Linked DNA regions of Homo sapiens: region 2 is linked to region 1. Evidence: fine-mapped expression QTL. Tissue or cell type: whole blood. Region 1 holds a variant in brackets; the other region holds the start of a gene. All regions are shown on one strand. Distances are between the middles of the regions.

Evidence for each region. PIP is the estimated chance that this variant, and not a neighbour inherited with it, causes the effect.
Region 2: it holds the start of USP45, and the variant in region 1 is fine-mapped to the expression of USP45 in whole blood (TOPMed, PIP above 0.99).

The regions. Positions count from the first base shown.
Region 1 is chr6:99,481,236-99,484,001 of GRCh38, reverse strand. It overlaps USP45 (ubiquitin specific peptidase 45), which reads left to right. Exons shown (of 18, transcript NM_001346022.3): 8 at 1,119-1,249. Among named protein-coding and RNA genes, the nearest start is that of USP45, 33 kb to the left of the region's middle. The variant T/C (reference allele first, on the strand shown) is at 1,251.
Region 2 is chr6:99,513,958-99,516,457 of GRCh38, reverse strand. USP45 (ubiquitin specific peptidase 45) reads left to right here and starts at 1,035. Exons shown (of 18, transcript NM_001346022.3): 1 at 1,035-1,066. RefSeq lists silencers at 248-467, 778-1,147, 1,198-1,297 and enhancers at 214-1,119, 1,120-2,027.

The sequences.
Region 1 (2,766 bases):
TGGAAAATTATAGCCTGTCCTTTCTGTGATTATAGTGGATTTTTAAGGATAGTTGTTATAAAATACATATGTAACAGTTATTTCATGAATATAGGAATAGGACAATATATTCAATAGTTATCTTGGAAGATAACATTCTTTTTTTTTTTTTTTTTTTGAGACGGAGTCTCGCTCTGTCGCCCAGGCCGGACTGCGGACTGCAGTGGCGCAATCTCGGCTCACTGCAAGCTCCACTTCCCGGGTTCACGCCATTCTCCTGCCTCAGCCTCCCGAGTAGCTGGGACTACAGGCGCCCGCCACCGCGCCTGGCTAATTTTTTGTATTTTTAGTAGAGACAGGGTTTCACCTTGTTAGCCAGGATGGTCTCGATCTCCTGACCTCATGATCCACCCGCCTCGGCCTCCCAAAGTGCTGGGATTACAGGCGTGAGCCACCGCGCCCGGCCGGAAGATAACATTCTTTAATGTCCCAAGTTTATATTTGGGATCTGCTTTCTATTCCTTGTCCTTTAGGAGAAAGTGTTATTGGTGGGGATAGTACTTTAGAAACCAGATTTCGAGGGGAAAAAAATTCTAGAATTAAATGGGTTAATCCTTCACCCAATGTTAGCTGCTTTTGTCAAGCTTTATGTCTCTCCCCTTTAAAAGAGGGAGATGTTATGCTGATTTTGTTACATGATTCCACATTATTACTTTACTAGTAAAATATTTGGGGAAAAGAAAGGTGTATAATCCTACATTATACACAAATAATCATACATTATTTACTAGCAAATAATGTATGATTATTCGTGGAGTGGTACAAACATTAAGTAGATTAGTGATTTTATTTATAGGAGAGTGCATTAAAGGACAGTGACAAGCAACTAAAGATTGGTGATATCATTTGATCTAATAGTTTTATTAAGCAAAGGGCAGAGGATATGAAAATACCTGTGTTTTTCAAGGCAGGTATTCTGTTTTCCATTTTTATATATTTTATTTATGAAATAATAAAGTTTCTTAATACAATTGAGGCAATTTAGTTGGTGTTATTTAAGCAGAGTGTAACTCACAGATTTTTAATATGTTATTTTTAAATTGTACATTTCTGACATAGAGTTGATCATGTTTTTAAAGGACCCATTGGTGGTGGAACTTTCAAGGCCTGGACCACTGACCTCAGCCTTGTTCCTGTTTCTTCACAGCATGAAGGAGACTGAAAAAGGACCACTTTCTCCTAAAGTTCTTTTTAATCAGCTTTGTCAGAAG[T/C]GGGTGCATCTACATTTAATATAAATAATTATGAGTTACAAAATACTAATGTATTCATCATTTAACATGAATAGTCGTTTTTACTGTAACTTTGCTCTTATTGCCCTGACTATGAAGAGAACTAAAATTTGTTACAGCTCTATGCTTTATGAAAATTATATCTCAGTCCTCAGAAGAAGCAGCTTATCCTCATATATAAGGAAATGGAGACACAGAAATTAAATGGCTCACCTAGTCTGAGTGAAAAGCTGAGAATCAAATGGAGATCTGTCCTGACTTGGATGCCTATGTTGTAATACCATAAAGTGAGAAAACCATAGAGTTGTAAAATCTAGAAAGTACCGTAAGATAACATCTAATCTAGCTTTCTTATTTTAAAAGATGAGCTGTGAGGCAAATAGAGTTTAAGTGAATTTCTCAAGGTATTACAGTATGTTTAAAAACCAAATCCTTATGTGCCTGGAAATAAACACATAAAGGATCTGACTTGACTTTAATGCATTCATGTATTCATTTATATAAAAAATTGAGAGCTTGCTTTTTATGAGGTACTTGCTACAATTCAGGGGTACACAACATATATTGCGTCACAAATGCACCCTGTCCTCATGGAACTCACAAGCTAGTCCAGTCCACAATTACTAAAATATGTAGAAGGAAAATTATTTGAATATGAGCTTGTGTTTTTGTATATCTATAGACTTTAAAATCTCATTTTAATTAAAACTAGTAATGAATGCCATGATATTTTAAATATAGTCCAAAATAGAGGGCTTAGTGTATGTTTCATTTGGTTGGCAAATGATGTTTCTTCAAAGCCTGAGGACCAAAAAAACCTGCAAAATTCTCAGAGGCATGAGTGTCTCACAGAGTTAAAAAGTTTTTAGCACAGCCATAATAAAGAATGAAATCATATTCTTTGCGACAACATGGATGCAGCTGGAGGCCATTATTCTAAGTGAATTAATGCAGGAACAGAAAACCAGATACCACATGTTCTCATAAGTGGAAGCTAAACATTGGGTACTCATGGACATAAAGATGGCAACAGTAGAGAGTGGGGATTACTAGAGGTGGGAGAGATTGAGGGAGGAAGGGTTGAAAAACTAACTATTCGGTACTATGCTTAGTACCTGAGTGACGGGATCATTCGTACTCCGGACCTTTGCATCACACAATATACCCAGATAACAAACCTGCACATGTACCCCTTGAATCTAAAATAAAAGTTGAAATTAAAACAAAAAAAGTTACTAGGTCATTGTATGCTTTAGAAATTTGTTTCTGACTTTGCCAGAAATAACTTGTTTTGTATAGTTTTCTTCCTGGTTATAAAGGTTTATTAACATTTTAAAAATTACTATTAAAATAATGGGCACTCATAGATAAAAATTCAAACTCCTCTCTATCTTTACTCCTCAGAAGTAACTATTATCTGATTCTTTCCAAAAGTGATCATACATACACAGACATATGCAAATTTTTTGCAACTTGCTTGATATATTTTATACATCTT
Region 2 (2,500 bases), 33 kb before region 1:
TGCAATTTTAACTCTCGTATCTTCTGATTTCTACGCCAATGCTCTTATCCTTAAAGCCACATTTGTCCCTTGGCTGAAGAGTTGTGAAAGATCAGGAGACTTTTAGAACCTATCCATAACCAGTGTTGGCATTTGCAATATCCATGATTGAAACAAAATATTTTCAAACCAACTACTTTTACTAAACATGCAATGTGCTGGCCACTTCAACAGATAACCGGGCTTTGAGGAGGTATAGGTGTATTTCAAGAAATGTACTATCTAGCTAGGAAGAGAGAAGGATAGGTAAGACAACAGCAATGGGGGAAAAACCACAATAATATATGACGAATGTTAGATGTGACTTTAAGAGTTCAGGGGGCGGCGGGGGTGTGGGGGCGGAGCCGGGCGCGGTGGCTCAAGCCTGTGATCCCAGCACTTTGGGAGGCCGGGGCGGGCGGATCACAAGGTCAGGAGATCGAGACCATCCTGGCTAACACGGTGAAACCCCGTCTCTACTAAACAAAATACAAAAAATTAGCCGGGCGTGATGGCGGGCGCCTGTAGTCCCAGCTACTCGGGAGGCTAAGGCAGTAGAATGGCGTGAACCCGGTAGGCGGAGGTTGCAGTGAGCCGAGATCTTGCCATTGCACTGCAGCCTGGGCGACAGAGCGAGACTCCGTCTCAAAAAAAAAAAAAAAAAAAAAAGAGTTCAGAGGAGGGTAACGGAGGGAAATCGGAGGCTGTTTCAGAAGGTGCCCAGCAACAAGTGGGACTTAAGCCGGACTCCTGCAACATCCGAGGTGCGCACGCTGGCCCAGGATCCTAACAAATTGCTAGTCGGTGGCTATGAGTCTTAGATTATCAGGGACTCTCCGGGCTCTGCGGACACGCAGAACGCAGGCGCCACGCAAGCCGGCCCCGCCCTTTCACCCCTCCCCGCGCTCCCGGGCCCCGGGCGCGCCGCCTGGAACCCTCCCGGTCCTGGCTGGGGGCGGGCGAACGAGGCCCCACCTCTGCCGGGAGCGGGACGAGCGCGCAGGCGCAGTCTCCCCAGGTTGTAGACGCTGCGGCCCGGCCCGGCGGGGTGAGTTGAGAACGCGGCGCTTTGGTCGCAGCGGCGGTATGGTCGCCGCAGTTTCTCGGTCTTCGCTTCGGCGACCTTGACCCCCTTGTGGGTGGGCGAGGCTGGAAGAGAGGCTCCCCACCCCACTCGGCTTCCTGATCCCTGGGGGCGCCGGGCGGTCACCGAGGGCCGTGTGAGCGCCGCTCTGCCGGCTCCGGGTCCATGCGGCTGCGGGAGAAGCCCTGGGCGTCGGGGCTGGCCTGGGAGGGGCCCGAGTCCCCTGGTGACCTGGGCGCGCGGCGGCCCCACACCTTTCCGTCCGCCTCATCGCGGCGCATTTCTCTTCACATCCTCGGGGTGTGTGTGTGTTGGTGACCGGAGGAAGCCTGTCTAATGACTTTTCTGGAAGCGTCGTGTATTAGGAGCTCCGGGGCCGGACTGCTTGGGTCCGCATCTCCATCCACCGCTTACTGGCTTTGGGACCTCTGCAAGTCACTTCACTTCTCTTTCTCAGTTTCAAGTGTAAAATGCGGAAAATAATAGCAACTTATCTCCTAAGGTGGTTGTGAGGGTTGCGTGGGTTAATATTTGTGAAGTGCTTAGAACTGAGCGTGATACACAGCAAAACCATAAGTGCTGCTCATCTTTTTGAGCTTGGTATATAAAAGGAGATAGTGACCTTTTCTTCTCTTTCCAACCCCCATAAATAATTGCCCAAGAGTAGGAAAAAAGGATTTTTTTTTCTTAAGGATATGGGCTTTTTGCATAGCCTGTTTAAAAACAAAGCTTTCTAAACAACTTAGTTGCACATCCTACTTTAGAGAAAAGACAAGTGTTAAGTGATGGTGACTTGAAAACTGTAAAGTTTATTGTTTGGAAAACCGCATGAGAAAAATGGCCAGAACATATTTGTGCTAAAAAGAGTTAACATAGCAGGCCTTAAGACTGCTATCCTTAGAAAGGACTGCTTGCAATGTTGGTGCTTGTTTGGCATCTGGGAACTTAGATTTTTGGGTTTGTGCTGAACAGTATGTTTTATGCCGAAATTACCAGCTTCTGTAAAAATCCGGGACACCAAGTCTTTAATGGGCTTCCCTGCGCGGAAACTGCTGCATTTTCACTGATGGAGGAAGGATGTGTTTTGTTTGACCCCTCTTGGGAGGGAGACCGCATAAGGAGCCTACACGTGATTCCTCCAGACTCCGCTTGTGTCTTTTTCTATTATGATGAGCCTTTATATCCATACTGCATTGTGTAATAAATGTCAGCCATGAATTCAACTATATGTTGAGTCCCGTGCATCCTATCAAAGCTCTAAATGTGGGGGAGATCACGGAGATCCTCAGCCACAGTTTTGTAAATTTGTATAAAGGTAAGGGATATAAGTGCCGTTTTTTTACGAGGATATATTTCCTAGTGGTACTGGGCTTTTAGTGTAACCATCACCTGAATAAT